Linked DNA regions of Homo sapiens. The protein of the gene in region 4 purifies or fractionates together with the protein of the main gene of each other region. This does not show direct contact. Each region holds a gene or a part of one and is shown on either strand. Other genes may lie near its edges.

Region 1 (3,500 bases), on a different chromosome or scaffold from region 4:
CATTTAGGTAACTAATCTCCTTTGTATTCGTCAGATAATTTTGATTTAATTTTGCCAGAATTTCTAGGTATTGATTTAGTTTTTAAAATGCTAACTTCAAGTTAGGTAAGTTCTGGAGCACTTCAGAATTGAGAGAGCTCTTCTCACCTGTACAGTCTCTCTTGCTCTTCACATCCACCCCAATAGAGGAGTCTTACTGTTTTCCCTTCCCAACACGTGATTAATTCATTGATTCTCAAAAAGGTTAAGTGACTTACCCAATGTCACCCATTCATGTACTTGGTAAACATTTTCCCTTCCCGACAGATGATTAATTCATTGATTCTCAAAAAGGTTAAGTGACTTACCCAATGTCACCCATTCATGTACTTGGTAAACACTAATGTTATTTTATAATAGTATATATTTAATAATAGTAATCATAATATAGCTAACATTTATTGAGCACTTATTATGTGTAAGGCACTGTTTTAGGCACTTTACATGTATTAGCTCATTTAATCTCCATAACAGCCCTATGATAAAGATGCTATTTAAAGCCTACTCTGATGAATCACTTTGCTAATTTCTAAGGCTGCATAAATGATAATGAAGAGGTAGCTGCCCTTAGGAACTGACAGTTAATATTAAACAGTTAACTAATACAGGGCCATATGTACATCATAGATTTATGTGCACAGTGCTATGAGAACACAGAGGAGGAGGACCTGGCTCTGAAGGGACCAAAAACCATTCTTTTTCATTCTTTTTTTTTTTTTTTTTTTTTTTTTTTTTTTTTTTTTTTTTAGACGGAGTCTCACTCTGTCACCCAGGCTAGAGAACAATGGCGTGAACTCAGCTCACTGCAACCTCCGCCTTCCGGGTTTAAGCAGTTCTCTGCCTCAGCCTGCCAAGTAGCTGGGATTACAGGTACCTGCCACCACACCCGGTTAATTTTTGTGTTTTTAGTGGAGACGGGGTTTCACCATCTTGGCCAGGCTGGTCTTGAACTCCTGACCTTGTGATCCACCCACCTCAGCCTCCCAAAGTGCTGGGATTACAGGTGTGAGCCACTGTGCCCGGCCCAAAAACCATTCTTATGACTTATTGCATTCACGTAATTCATTCATTCATTCATTGAAGGCCTACTGTGGGCCAGGTATTATGCTAGGCCCTTGGAATATGATGAGGACTCCTGGGCCAAGGCTGTTTATTTTTTTATTGTTGTTTGTTTGTTTGTTTGTTTGTGACAGAGCCTGGCTCTGTTGGCCCAGGCTGGAGTGCAATGGCACGATCTCGGCTTATTGCAGCCTCCACCAAGGCTGTTTCTAACATACTACACTGTCTCTCTGAAGGCACAGCCAGACTTTAAGGGAACTCTTGGTTTTAAAATAATCTGGTTTTGTTTATACTTTATTATCGTCTACTAGCCTGGGACCAAATTCTTTGAAAAATTTTCCCCAATGCCTCTAATTTAGAATCATATTAGAAATAAACTAAGATCCTATAATATAAAAGCCTATATATGTGGAATCAGTCATATCTAGGAAAATCAAATAATAGAATAAAGACTGAATACATTCATTATTTTTAAGGCAAGTGAAATATTGAGGTTGACTGAAATGAGTCACTGTTACTTCTCATAAATAGATTAATCGTAAATTTAAAGTTAGTTAAAAATAGTGATAAAAGATTTTAATAGCAAATTATAAGTAAGCACTGATTAAATGGATTATATCAATGTTTTATTAAACCTTGCTCTGAAAATAGTACTTATGACATAAAGTTTGATTAACATACTAGATTCAGATTTGATTATGGATGGGTGTAATCATTGTTACGGAGAGGTACCGTGGTGCAGTAGTTAAGAACAAGGACTTTGGAGTCAGACGGATGACATGGTAATTGTGGTACTTAACCTCTGTTATCCTTGGTATCTTTGTCTATGGAATGGAGTAATAAAAGCTATCTCAGAGAATTATGAATATGATAATCTTAAAGGAACCAAGGTCGCATTATTAAATTTTACTATCATTTAATTTCCAGATGAAAATAATTCTCAGAAACAAAACTTCTATTGAGTCATGGATTGAAGAGAAGGTAAATTTTAATAATTGTTTCTTCAATATTAAAAAAGTATATTAATAAAGGACTGGTAAAGTCCTGAATATTAATAAAGTCTGTTATTAGACCGGATTAACGAAAAGTGCCTAAAAGTGAAAACATGGCTGCCAAATGGCTACCGTAAGTCATTTGCATGCCACATAAAAGGTGAATATAGGAAACATTTTTGTTCATTCTGTAACTCCCACAGAAAGGTGCTTCTCATACACCCTGAGTGGTCGCAGAGGCCTAAGCCACACGTCAAACCATCTGTTTGTTGTCTCTTAGACTAGAGGAGAAAGCAGCCCATTTGGAAAGGAGCTTCCACCCTACCAAACTGCCATCAGGTTTTTCTCAGTGTTTTAGACATTCAATGAAGCTCCTAACATTTTGCTTGTCACAGACCTCACAATGTCCAATACTTCATACTGTCCATTGTGATTCTAGCATGAAACACAAATCTGACTACCCTGCTCTGTGTTTAAAACTTCTCAGAGCCTCACCATTCCTGTGGCAGGGGTTGAAACCCAAATACCTGCAGGGTCTGGGCAGATAACGTCCATGAAGGGGAGCAAGCCTGTATACCAAAGAATTGCCTGGCAGACCAAGCTGATTGTTGCCACAGGGGAATATTCACAATTTCCAAATTACAAAATAGGGAGAAGAATAGCATCGTTTTATATCTTTACAAATCTCTTTAGTATCTTTGACTTAAGAGAAGATGGTTGGATTCTCACTTCTGCATTCAGTCTGTTGAGATATGTTGCTTCGATTGAAGTATGTGAAGATCTAGCCTCACACAGATAAGTAGGTAGAAAAGGATAGAATATTTTAATAGGCCTTTTACATGATAATAGTGGATGTTCTTCCGTATTACATTGAAAACTTGACAAGTGATATTTCTTATCAATAAGATTTTTATACCTTTTTATTTTAAAACTCATCAGTCTATCTTGCTCTTTGAATTAATCTTTTACCAGTATGTGGTTTTATGTAACATCAGGCATCGGTCATTTGGCAAATACTAGTTTACTGTGTTATGTAGATTTTGCAAACGTTAAACACCTTTCATTATACAATATCCCAAAATTGCATTCACGTATATCAATATATCATTTTTATGAGAAAAAATCCTTAAGTATTGGAAAGCTGTCAGGCTCACAGTGGTAGATACAAGGTTTTTTTTTTTGTAATTCTAGTATACATTTGAAAGCCTTAATTTTTTACTATTAACCCATACTGTCAGTCATTTCCCTTGAAGTGACTGCCTGACTGTTCGTTTTTGAGAAAATGTTCACCAAGTCCTGAAGTCTGAATAACCTTAGTTTGCTATATTACTCATTCTTTCAAATAAGAATAGTGTTACATTAAAAAAGCTGGCTCTACAGCTTTTGTTAGCTTACAGCTTAACAACTATT
Region 2 (4,015 bases), on a different chromosome or scaffold from region 4:
TTTGGGGTAAAAATAGCAGAGTCAGTTGCTGAGGACAATGACCTTCCTTATAACATTTAGTTTCATACCCATATTAGGTCTTGTCTTGAGGACCCTTTATATGTGCTTGTTTACTAGTGGCCTTCCAGCCATAGCATTCTTACCTTTTTTTCCTATTCTAAGAATTAAAAAAAAAAATTATAGAGCCAGCAAGGGAGGAGGCAGGAAACAGAAATCGAATTTCATCATTCCAGTATAGTTGTCCCTTTTTTTGTATTTCTGACTTGGTTTTATAATTATATTTACTTACTAATTATTGTTTTTTAACATTCTTTATTGTGGCTTACTCTTCATACTTAGAATTGAAATTGTTGGACATCACATGTATATTCACATTATAAATACATCATTCTTCCACTGTTAGACCTTTAGATTGCTTCCAGTTTTTAATATTCTAAATAAGACTTTCAACATTTTCTGTGTTTTAGCTCATTCTCTTAGGACATTCTTAGAAGTTAGAAACATTTCTGCTGGGATCGTTGGAGGGAACTTCAAACTTTGGAATCTTTCCTGCAAGAAATTCTTTACCAAAGAAAGGCAGGTGTTTCTTAAAGGGATGCAAAAGATATTTTGCACTTTGTATGTTCCAAAACATTTAGTAAGTTAACTAAAAAAATGAGTTAATTTGGTTTCTTGGGGGATTTTAATTTTTTAATTTGTTTTCTGGTTATGTAAAAAAAATGTTTTTTTTTTGCTTCTTATCACAATCCTTTTGTTTCCTTTTTAATCCTTTAATAACACCTTCAAATTTTATAAGACTTTGGCTTATTTCCTATATAATTCTTTTTTTCTTATACCACCTCTTAAGATTGATATGTTCATTTGCAGGTAAGCATTAATTATTAGATAAAGAGGGATGATTCTCAAGATTGTGTGTGTTCTGAACAGAGGGAACTACATGACATTTTCTTCTGTAATTGCCTTTGTAACGTCTTTAGAATGTGGTTCCTAAATATTCCTGGATAAATTCTCTTGATAGGCCCATTGGAAAGGCTAATACTCCCACCCAGTGCTTTGTTCCTTCCTGGCAAAAGAATTCCTAAAACCACTGATTTTAGTTACTGACTTCTCACCATCTGGACTCTTACAAGATGTTTCAGAAGTTGTGTAGAACTTGTCTTTCAGTTGACTTGTGGCTGAATTTACTGTTACTTCTCTAATATCAGTTGTTTTCTGCATTACCACCCTCTCCCCTAACCATCTGTACTATGAATGGAAAAGGAAAAAGATGGAAAAATTATACCTAGGATTGTCCCTAAATGCAACCTCTTGGTTCCCCCCACCCCTCATGTTTTATTATAAACGATTTTAAGAGCTGGGCATGGTGGTTCATGCCTATAATCCCAATGCTTTGGGAAGCTGAGGCAGGAGGATCACTTGAGGACAGGAGTTTGAGACCAGCCTGGACAACATAGTGAGACCCCCATCTGTACAAAAAAAAAAGTGCTACTTGGGAAGCTGAAGTGGGAGGACCACTTGAGCCCAGGAATTCGAGGAGGTTATAGTGAACTATGATTGTGCCACTGCACTCCAGCCTGGGTGACAGAGCAACACCTTGCCTCTAAAACAAACAGCTCCAACTATTTTATTTTTTTATTTTTCTGAGACAAGATGTTGCTTTGTCACCCAGGCTGGAGTGCAGTAGTATAAACATGGCTCACTGCAGCCGAACTCCCAGGCTCAAGTGATCCTTCCTCCTCAGCCTCCCAAGTAGCTGGGACCACAGGTATTTGCCACCATGCCTGGCTAATCTTTATTTTTTGTAGAGACGAGGTCTTGCTATGTTGCAAGAGGGAGATCACTTAAGTGATCTTCCCTCATTGGCTTCCCAAAGTGTTGGGATTCCAGGCGTGAGCCACTGCACCCCGCCTGACCTAACTATTTTAAACACTACTCATATTGCCATCATCTAAATTCAACAACAATTTGCCATATTTGCTTTATGTATATGTATAATTATATATTTATAAAATTTTTTGAACCATGTGAAGTTGCAAACATCATTGAACTTCACCACTAAATATATCAGCATGCATCTCCTAAAAATCAGGTATTTTCTTACAAAACCATAATTCTGCTATCTATTATGATTTAACATTCTGTCATTTTCAAATTTCTTCAGGTGTTTTTTGTTACATCTTAAAGAACAGACGTTCTTGGATCTCAAAGATTCCGAGGAAGGAAAGAACATGGTGGATAATCCATAATTAAGAAGTTTGAATCTTTTCCTAGTCTTAAAAACAAAGTGAGAACTAAAGGGGTTTACCTTCCATCAAAGTTGAACAAATTAATTCTTTTGTGTGTCATACTTTCTGTCTCTCTCCCTAAAAACATGGGGGTGGTAATCTCTTTGTTTTATCTGGTAGGTTTTCCAGATAAAAGATTATACAGGTTTGGAATCTTAATATCCAACCCCCAACTCCAAGCCCTGCCCCAACAACAACAGCTAATTATTTTACATCTTGATGATGGTAAATTTTTCATGATTAACCAATTTTGGGCACCTATTCCGCCATATATGGTTTTATTTAATTTTCACAGCAACACTTCAAAGTTGATATTCATATTCTAAATTTATAGATGAACGAAGAGGCTCAAAGATTAAACAACTTGCTAATAAGTGATTTTTACCCATGCTTTTTCCATTATATTATGTTTTGGATTTTTCCAGAGTACCCAAACCCAGCAGATGCATACTGCTCCAAAATAAATGGAACTCAATACTGGCTCTGTCAAGTGTCTCTTGCCAATCAATTGTCCTTCTAATCTTTTGAGGGGCAGTTCTCTCAGTTGTACCAAGTCACTGTCATCCCCAAACTTTTCAATGATTCCAGGCCTTTAACAACTCCCCTCCACCTCCAAACCCTCTCTCACCAAATTGTGTAATTTCTTTGTTTACTGCTGGCTTCATCATGCACTTTTCCTTCATAGCCTATTTTAAGAAGTTGATTTGCTGAACTGCTTTTTAGCCAAGCTATTTGTAAATCAAGCTACACAAAGTATGTGGCCATAATTTCCAAAAGGCAAATGATCATTGTTCAATTGCTGTTGCTCTGCAGTGTGCATTCATGCAGTTAAAAATTGTACTGCATTGATAGTACGGCATCAGAGAATAGATCACTTAGGTTCAAATCCCAGTGCATGATCCTGAGCAAGATTATCATATCTAGATACATTAGTTTTTATCTGTGAAATGGGAATGATAGCACAATCTTCATAGAATTGTTGGTAAGGATTAAGTGAGTTGATATGCTCAAAGTGTGCATGCTGGCATAGAACAAGTCACTGTTTACAAGCCTTTAAAGAAGGAGCTGTTCTGGCACTGTAAACTTGAACCTTTTTTCCCCAAATCTAATGGATATAGGCAAGGAAATTATATTTATATAAAATAAATGTTTGACTACCTTTGATCATAAACTTTATTCTCATCTTGACCTGTTCCTTTGAAAAGATAATAAATACTGATATGTGAAAAATGTATGGACAGATTATTCAGATGTCTGGTTGAGGCTTTACAGTTTTGTATATTTCTGTCAGACATTAAGCTGACTCTAAGCAGTGGAGGTTTGGTTTATGCCCCTAAATTACACAGCACTTCTTTTCTCCATTGTATCGAGGGGTCATTCAGGGGTTGCTGTTCTGGAGATGGAAGCACATGTCTCCTGCCTGGGTCAGAAGCGTCACAATAGCACAAGCATTTATTCAGCACTGGCCTAGGAGAACCATTCATTTAGTCAAAACAAGCATTTATATTCATTATCCTGAACAAAAACCAGACTAAATGAGAACATTTATAGCTGCTCAGGCACTCTGCTAATTGCTATGTCTGCTAGACAAAGTGAAATGACACTTACAGTGACTATTTAAAAATAATTTGGAGCATGAATATTTGAAGCTCAGTTCTTTTTACAAAGGAAATGTATAACCTTTGCTCTTCATTTTTTTTGGCAGTTATTTATAGATCCAGGCCCTGTGT
Region 3 (3,500 bases), on a different chromosome or scaffold from region 4:
GTCCTTTCTCCTCGGCCTCCCAAAGTGCTGGGATTACAGGCGTGAGCCACCACGCCTGGCCTACTTCATTTCTTTTTAAAATCTTTATTTTAGAAATTTCAAACATACCAAAATAGAACGTAATGACCTCCTATTATCCAACTACAGTAATCACTCATGGCCATTCATGTTTCATTTATACCCTCCCATTTCCCATCACTTTCTTCACCTGCACCCTCCGCACAATTAATTTGAAGCAAATCACAGATCTTATATCATTTTTTCTATAAACATTTCATTTTCTTACTCTAAAAATACTCTAAAAGCAAATGTTCACACCATTATCACCTTAAAAATGTAATAATTTCTTTCTTTTTTTTTTTTTTTTTTTGAGACAGGGTCTCACCTTTTGCCCAGGCTGGAGTGCAGTGGTGCAGTCTCAGCTCATTGCAACCTCTGCCTCCCAGGTTCAAGCGATTCTCCTGCCTCAGCCTCCGAAGTAGCTGAGATTACAGGCACCCGCCACCATGCCCAGCTAATTTTTAGTAGAAACAGGGTTTCACTATGTTGGCCAGGCTGGTCTCAAACTCCTGACCTTGTGATCCGCCTGCCTCAGCCTCCCAAAGTGCTGGGATTACAGGCGTGAGCCACCACGCCCTGCCAACACTCCCATTTTTAAGTCACGTCTTAGGTGCCCATTCCCTACCCCACTTGATTATTAGCTTTTTGTGGTTATTTTTTCTTTTAGGTAAAATGTACATATATTAAGATGCACACAAATCTTAGCTATATGACGAATGGCAATACCTGTGTAACCCACACCTTTACCGTGTTATAGATTTCCTTTGCCCCAGAAAGTTCCTCATGTTCCTTTCCACTTAATCTCCTCACCCCGTCCCTGAAAGCACCCAGTGCTCTGATTTTTCTCTCCTTAGTTTTGCTTGTTCTAAAACTTCATATAAATTGAATCATATAGTATATATACTTTCTAATCTGGCTTCTTTTACTGAACTGTTAGTGAGATTCATCCATGTTACTGTTCTTTTTTTATTCTGTTTTATTATGTAGTACTCTATTATACGGCTGTACCACAGTTTATCTATTCTCTTTTATGGACATTGGGTTTGTTTCCAGTTTTGGATTATTGTGAATAAAACTGCTATAAACATTTTTGTACTTGCTTTTTTGTGGGCAAATGTTTTCATTTCTCTTGTATAAATACCTAGGAGTGGAATTGCTGGGTGAAACGGTAGCTGCATGTTTAATTTCATAAGAAATTGTAAAACCTTTTCCCCCAGTGATTGTACCATTTTATAGTCCCACCAGCAGTGAGAGGTCTAGTTGCTCTGCAGTGTCACCAACATTTGGTGTTTTTAATTTTAGCCATTCTAGGGGGTGTCTGTTGGTTCTCATTGTGATTTTAATTTGCATTTCCTTGATGACTAAACATGTTCAGAACTTTTTCATTTGATTATTGATATTTGTTTATATAACCTTATAAAGTATCAAGTCTTTTACCCATATACTGATTGTTTTAGTCAGTTTTATTATTTAGATATATAGTTCATTTTCATCACATAATTTTTAGAGTAATTTAAAAGTATACTTGCATTATATTTAGTAACAAAAACAAGATTAATCTGAATTCATGTGTCTCTATCTCTTTGGGTAAGACATGTTAGATTCCAGTTTGATTAAAAAAAAAAAACAAAAAACCTTGTAGTGACCTGTTATTACTCTTCTTGCCTTGAAACCTGCAGCTACTCTATTGTGCCTTCCCAATTTTTCAGTATTTGAGACTTCTCCTGGTTTTTTTTCCCAAAAGCATTTTGGAGACAAAAGGAAATCCAAACCCATTTTACCTGAACCCAACCACTCACATGATCTCTGATGTTCTCCCCAGAATGGTGTTGTACTGTCTGTTGTCATTCATTCAGTGTATCCAGACTTGAGTATCCTTAGAGGTCCATATGCCCCATTTATGAGAATGAAATTTAATCAGAGGGAAGACTATTGAAAATTTGTTTATTTATGTATTTTTTTTGAGATGGAGTCTCGCTCTGTTGCCCAGGCTGGAGTGCAGTGGTGCAATCTTGGCTCACTGCAACACCTTTGGCCTCCCAGGCTCAAGTGATTCTCCTGCCTCAGCCTCCTGAGTAGCTGGCACTACAGGTGTGTGCCACCACACCTGGCTAATTTTTGTATTTTTGGTAGAGATGGGGTTTCACCGTGTTGGTCAGGCTGGTCTCAAACTCCTGACCTCAAGTGATCTCCCTGCCTCGGCCTCCCAAAATGCTGGGATTACAGGCATGAGCCACCGCGCCTAGCTGAGAATTTACTTTTTATGGTGTTTTAGCTGTAGCAGTCAACTTGAGCATCCTACCAAAGCAAGTTGTTAATGCATATGTGATGAACACGCCAATGTAACAAAAACGTATTCTTTTTTTTACAGAAGCTGCCAGTAACTCAGATTCTAGCCATGAAGGTCAAGAGGAATCTTCAAAGGAAAATGTGTCATCAAATGCTGCCTGCCCTGACCACACCCCAACACCTAATGATGATGGCAAATCACATGAACTGTCTAACCTTCGACTGGAGAATCAGCTGCTGAGGAATGAAGTTCAGTCTTTAAATCAAGAAATGGCCTCGTTACTCCAAAGATCCAAAGAGACTCAAGAAGGTAGAGGCTTAAATTGTTCAGGATTAGGAATTTAACTTTTAAAAATAAACTTAAGGCTGGACGCAGTGGCTCGTGCCTGTAATCCCAGCACTTTGGGAGGCCGAGGCGGGCGGATTGCCTGAGGTCAGGAGTTCAAGACCAGTCTGGCCAACATGGTGAAACCCTGTGTCTACTAAAAATACAAAAAAATTAGTCAGATGTGGTTGCAGGCACCTGTAATCCCAGCCACTCAGGAGGCTGAGGCAGGGGAGTTGCTTGAACCAGGGAGGTGGAGGTTGCAGTGAACCGAGATTGCACTACTGCACTCTAGTCTGGGCAGCAGAGCAAGACTCTATCTCAAAAATAAATAAATAAAAATAAAATAAAATAATAAACTTAAAAACTTTAAACTGTTAGAAATATTTACATTTAAACTGTGAGAAATTAGATGCGACTTGTAAAATGATATTTTCATAGAAAAACTGCCCAGATTTGGAAATGGGACCAGTCATCCTCCCACCAACCCAAAACATAAGAGTATTCGCTTCTTTGGTCATCCTTTAAGAACCATGAAATTGAAGAACTGAGAGGAACAAACTAGTAGTAGTCTAGTTCATTCATTTATTCTGAACTTTCAAGGGAAGCTGTTCCATTAAACAAAGTAGTAGGCACTAATAGAGTTGCAGTGTTGCTGCTCTAGGGCATATAAAAGGTACATGGAATTCAGTTCAGTGCCCTTGGGAATTGTGCAGTGAGGTGGCCCTGGAGTAGAAAACCTCAAGTTCCTCAGAAATAGGTAATTAAGAAGGAAATAATCTCATTATGGAGGTAGTGACTGAGGAAGATGTGAATGTTATTGTAA
Region 4 (5,501 bases):
TCAGCTTGAAGATGGGTGACACAACCAGTTTGATGGTGCGTCAAATTCTGCTGTTCTTTTTATTTTTAATTTTTTGTTTGAATTTAATTCCTCTAATTTTTCATCAGTGTTAAAATTTCACCTTTTCCCAGCACCCCCAAAAAGCCTGTGGGCACAAAATGGTGGCCACGTGGCAAAGAACTCAGCAAGGAGAGCTGCTGGTTGGTTTCTATCTTTGTTTGTTTGAGACGGAGCTTTGCTCTTTTGCCCAGGCTAGAGTGAAGTTGTTGGGGAAACCAGCCCCACACCACCCGGCGGGTACCCCGAGTCCAGCGAAGACAAAGGAATTAGAATAAGAGTTTAAAAGGCGGGTCCGGGGGACCGGAGCGTTGGAGGCTTGCTCACGGCCCCGAGCTCTCGGCCTCCACCCAATTTATTGGTGTATATTCACACTGTTGTGCAACCATCACCCCCATCCATCTCCAGGACTTTACCATCTTCTCACACTGAAACTGTGCACCCGTTAGTATTTTTCATGGCTATGTGGATGTAATATAATTTCTTTCAGAAACCCCTATTGTTATACATTCAGGTTTCTTTTTTTCTCTATTATAAATATCTTTTATCAGCAATGCTTCAGCAAGATCTCTTGTGCATACATCTTGCAGACATATTATTTCTTTTTCTTTTTTTTTTTTTTTTTTTTTGAGACGGAGTCTCGCTCTGTCACCCAGGCTGGAGTACAGTGGCGCGATCTCGGCTCACTGCAAGCTCCGCCTCCCGGGTTCACGCCATTCTCACGCCCGCCACCATGCCCGGCTAATTTTTTGTATTTTTAGTAGAGACGGGGTTTCACCGTGTTATCCAGGATGGTCTCGGTCTCCTGACCTCGTGATCCGCCCACCTCGGCCTCCCAAAGTCCTGGGATTACAGGCATGAGCCACGGCGCCCGGCCACAGACGTTATTTCTGAAGGATAAATTCCTAGAAATGGATTTGCTAGGGCACGTAGGAGGAATTCCAATTTACACTCACTTGTATGTGTGAGGAAACTTTCAGACTCTACTGTAACGACAGGAGGTATTACCGCTGTTTGTCCATGTGATAGGCAAACGTTTCTGTTAATTTTAATACTGTTTGGATAGCTAGTACCGGCTCAGTTTTTTTAACCCACACCATGTTACTGTCTTGATTCTGGACTTTCGCAGTGTGTCAGTGTAGAAGCAGCTAACGCTTCCGATGTACACAACCTAGACGTTCCATGACCCAGCTGACTTCGATGCTGCAAGCCTCCCTTTCGGTTTCCCGGAGCAAGCGCCCGAGTGCGTGTTGGGCTCCCGGCAGGGCTCCTGGCCGGCCCTCGACGGACTTCCCCGCCTTTGCCCAGTCCTGCCCCTCCGCGGAGGCTTGCCAAGGTCTTGTCTGCTGCGCTTGATGTGTGCAGCTCAGCTTTACTGCGTCTAGGCTAAGCCCCACAGTTTCTTTTACAGAGCGATTGTCCAACTTCAGGCATCTGGGTCCCCGAGTGGCGGGTCTGGGCCGGAGCTGGGAATCAGCCTTTCCAGCAAGGTCCCTGCAGATGCCGCGGGTCTGAGGACTACGCTTTGGAAGGCCTCGCAGTGCGTCTAGATCTGACAGCTGCTCTGCATGAGCCTGGCTCCAGGCTGAAGCAATAGTCGGTCAACACAAAATCGTTCTCCCAAGTTAGGGAAGCAGAAGCCAGACAGGGAGACTGGGTAGGTGCGCGCTGGTACCGCCGCGGCGTTCGCTCCGGCTTCAGTGCACGGCCGGAGGAGGACGCCAGGGGGCAGCAGCGCCACGCTCACCCGCCCAGGACGCGCTTCCGAACGCGCAAGCGCAGTAGGCCCAGTGCGTGCTGGCCCGGGGTGGCAGGAGCCGCAGAGGCTTGGGCTGCAGGTAGGTGCTGCGGCGAGGGGTGAGAGGGCGAAGGGGCGAGGGGGCGTGCAGCTGGGTTTCCCGGGGGACCCTGTACGTGGCCTGGGCCGCACCCCCCGCAGCCCCGGCCGCCTGCCCGCGGCCTGTCCGGAGGCTCCCTAGGAGGCTGCGCTGGGCCTGAGCGGCCGTGTCCACCGCGCCCAGCCCCTATCTCCGCGTCCACCCCTGCGCGGTAGCGGGACGTTAAAGAACCAGAGAAGGGCCCGGCGAGGTGGCTCCAGCCTGTAATCCCAGCGCTTTGGGAGGCCGAGGCGGGAGGATCGCGTGAGCTCAGGCGAGAGCAGCCTGGGCAACATGGCGGAACTTCTGTCTCCGTAAAAAAGCACTTAGCCGGGCGCGGTGGCGCCGCCTATAGTCTTATCTACTCCGGAGGCTGAGGCGGGAGAATGCTTGAACCCGGCGGGGGCGGAGGTTTCAGTGAGCCGAAATCGCGCCACTGCACTTCAGCCTGGGGGCCAGAGTGAGAGGCTGTTTCTATTATTATTACTTTATCATTATTATTATTATTTGAGACGGAGTCTCGCTCTGTCGCCCAGGCTGGAGTGTAGTGGCGCGGTCTTGGCTCCTGGGATTACAGGCGTCCGCCACCACGCCCGGCTAATTTTTGTATTTTTAGTAGAAACGGGGTTTCCCCATGTTGGTCAGGCTGGTCTCGAACGCCTGACCTCAGGTGATCCGCCCGCCTCTGCCTCCCAAAGTGCTGGGATTACAGGCGTGAGCTACTGGGTCCGGCAGAGGCTGTCTCTGTTTAAAAAAACAAAAACCAAACCAAACCAAAACAAAACAAAAAACAAAAAAACCAGAAAGGACCGAGGACTCTGTCTCAGCTCTTTGCCTTTGGGTGTTTATTCTGCACGAGATCATTGTTGCCAGGAGGTGTTAAGTGTAATCATATTCTCTTTTTTTTAGAAAGCAAAATTTCGCTGTTTTGTTGCATAATCTTGTCTTTGCCACCCTTTGCCTTTGCTATAGAACCTTAAGGCTAAATAAGCGTTCAGAATATTTAAAATAATCCTCTTAATGTACCTTGTGCTTTATTGGCGCAATGGAATTCTACTCTAAACTGTATTGGATGACATTACTCTGTGTCTTCCCTAGTTGTAGAAAATATCTTGTAAGTCGGTAAAAACTAGTTTTGTCCCTTTGCTTTTCTTTTCTTTTTAAGCTGTAAATGTGGAGCAGTGGGTCCCAAGCCTTTCTCTATCAATAAGCCTTCCTATCAGTGTCAGAAATGCTTTGCATTTCAGTCGTGCCTGAATTTCTTCTGCCCAACCTGCCCCACCATCTTTATTCCTTAATGTGCAGGCTGTTTTCAGGACCAGTAAATTTCAGTGGTTTTTGCTTACTTCTGGACACGAAAGTTCCTTTAGCCACACAGCCTCATGCTATGCTCTGGGCGGCCTACTCCAGAATATGCCTGTGAAACAAAAAAGCAAATCGGGGTTGAGGTGGGCTGAAGTCTTCTTTAAGAAACCGGCAGTCCCAGGGTACCCCAGCCCAGCCCCTAGCTGACCACGCTGGGTTTGATTTAGTTCAACTCCCGAGCATTGCGGTATTTAGGGGAAGAATGGGCTTGAGGCCAGAAAACTTGGCTCTTCTGTGTATAGTTCAGTGACCTTAGATATATTACTTCACCTCTGACTCAGTTGTCTTATCTGTGAAATGGGAATAACAACAATTACATCCACTTCACAGAATTGGTGTGAAGTTGACAGTGTATAAAAGTCAAATGAATTTTGGGGTATTTTTTTTATTTGTTTTGTTTTGGTTTGGTTTGGTTTGTTTTTGCCGAGAGAGGATTCAGAAGTGAATGTGAGGACTTAGGGATATATAAAAGGTTTTTGGGGCATATGAAATTTGGATTCAGCAAGAAATGCATTAAAGGTTTTCTGAGTAATGCTGAGGGTCCAAGAGAGATTAGAAAATATGCATTTCTAGAGTCCCACAGAGTTTTGTAGCTGATGTTGGCAGCCTTTGAGTGGAAATGAAGAAGTGGACAGGGCAAGTTACATGGGTCTGGTGAATGACAAGCAGATCTGGGTTTATGATGAAGCCTCTAGCCTCTTCACTTGCACAAATACCTTCCAAAACCTTGCACAAATCCTCTTGCCAAAACTCTGGCAAGAGGCTCAGCACTTTTACATTCATAACTATTCTTCTCTTAAGGAATTACCACTCCTTGCCCCAACTTGTATAAGCTTCAGGCCCCATAAAACCTGAATCCACTAGTGGCAAGGAAGGATTGGTGGGAGGTTAGGGGTAAGGAGGGTTGGAGGGTTGAAAGGATTTATCGCAGGGTTTGAGCTGGGAAACTTGGATTGGAGAAGGAGGTGGCAGATGAGGGTCCTCAGAAGACAGGAGCCGTGAGGAGAGGAAGAGCGGATTCCGTGGAGCGAACACAGGAGAGGGAAAGCAGCCTGTGCGGCTGAGGCCATGAAGAGGGAGAGGTGCAGAGTGACCAGGCAGTTGGTGCGTCTTTGCCGAGTACCCGCTGTGTGCCAGGCACTGGGGTGCAGTGGTGAACAGGACAGGCAGGCAGGCTTCTTGGTGCTCAGAATCTAGAGGAAGCCGGGGCCTGGGTATCCCAGAAAGGGAGCCTTTGAGGAAAGCTCAGGGGCCAGAGAGTGTGGTGCAGGGAGGGTTTAGGGAAGCAGATAGGGGCTAGATTTCAGGAGGCCACATAAGAGTTTGGACTTGATCCTGTGGGCCGAGTGGGGGGCTGTTGAATGTTAAGCAAGGTGGGATCAGATCCGTGCTTTAGAAAGCTCTCCCTGCATGGGCCGGACATGGTGGCTCATGCCTGTAATCCCAGCACTTTGGGAAGCCAAGGTGGGCGGATCACGAGGTCAGGAGATTGAGACCATCTGGCCAACATAGTGAAACTCCGTCTCTATTAAAATACTAAAATTAGCTGGGCATGGTGGCACGTGCCTGTAATCCCAGCTCTGTAATCCCAGCTACTCAGGAGGCTGAGGCAGGAGAATCCCTTTAACAAGGGAGTCAGAGGTTGCAGTGAGCTGAGATTGTGCTATAGCACTCCAGCCTGGTGACAGAGTGAGACTCCTTCTCAAAAAAAGAAAAAAGAAAAAAAAGAAAGCTCTCCCTGCATGTATCAGAGAAACTTCCATGTATGCCTGGGGAGATGTATACACAGCTTGTCTCACTAATTGTGGAAAAGTCAAACCAGTTGAAAATAGTGAACTGAGTTTTGTGCATCTGCATGGATAAATCTCAGAAATGTAATGTTGAGCTTTTAAAAAAAACTGGTTGCAGGAGGATAATACCAGCCCATCACTGTTTGTATAAAGCTTGAAAACATATGTATGATTTATGGGCACATACTTGTGAAAATAAGCATGTATGAGAAGCGGAGTTTGGTAACCCATCCCTGTAGTCAGTCCCAGCTGCTTGGGAGGTGGAGGCAGGAGGATCACTTGAGTCTAGCCTGGGCAACATAGTGAGACTCCATGTCTTAAGTAGATAGATAAGTAGGTAGGTAAATAGATAAGATCGATTAGATAGATAGACAGCATGTATAGGAATTATATACACCAGTGGTTTTCAGAC

Evidence for each region.
Region 1: the proteins of POMK (region 4) and ZDHHC6 purify together in Homo sapiens (affinity purification with mass spectrometry; 4 studies listed by BioGRID and IntAct, with this or other methods). This does not show direct contact.
Region 2: the proteins of POMK (region 4) and PIGM purify together in Homo sapiens (affinity purification with mass spectrometry; 3 studies listed by BioGRID and IntAct, with this or other methods). This does not show direct contact.
Region 3: the proteins of POMK (region 4) and GOLGA5 purify together in Homo sapiens (affinity purification with mass spectrometry; 4 studies listed by BioGRID and IntAct, with this or other methods). This does not show direct contact.

What each region holds. Positions count from the first base shown.
Region 1 is NC_000010.11:112,436,915-112,440,414, reverse strand, and holds part of ZDHHC6 (palmitoyltransferase ZDHHC6), read left to right. Parts: intron 1-762; exon of another isoform or gene 763-909; intron 910-2,025; coding exon 2,026-2,079; intron 2,080-3,500. UniProt on the Homo sapiens protein: Endoplasmic reticulum palmitoyl acyltransferase that mediates palmitoylation of proteins such as AMFR, CALX, ITPR1 and TFRC.
Region 2 is NC_000001.11:160,024,453-160,028,467, reverse strand, and holds the end of PIGM (GPI alpha-1,4-mannosyltransferase I, catalytic subunit), read left to right. Parts: 3' UTR 1-3,515; downstream 3,516-4,015.
Region 3 is NC_000014.9:92,804,305-92,807,804, forward strand, and holds part of GOLGA5 (golgin subfamily A member 5), read left to right. Parts: intron 1-2,431; coding exon 2,432-2,659; intron 2,660-3,500. UniProt on the Homo sapiens protein: Involved in maintaining Golgi structure. Stimulates the formation of Golgi stacks and ribbons. Involved in intra-Golgi retrograde transport.
Region 4 is NC_000008.11:43,091,669-43,097,169, forward strand, and holds the start of POMK (protein O-mannose kinase), read left to right. Parts: upstream 1-1,846; 5' UTR 1,847-1,895; intron 1,896-5,501. UniProt on the Homo sapiens protein: Protein O-mannose kinase that specifically mediates phosphorylation at the 6-position of an O-mannose of the trisaccharide (N-acetylgalactosamine (GalNAc)-beta-1,3-N-acetylglucosamine (GlcNAc)-beta-1,4-mannose) to generate phosphorylated O-mannosyl trisaccharide (N-acetylgalactosamine-beta-1,3-N-acetylglucosamine-beta-1,4-(phosphate-6-)mannose).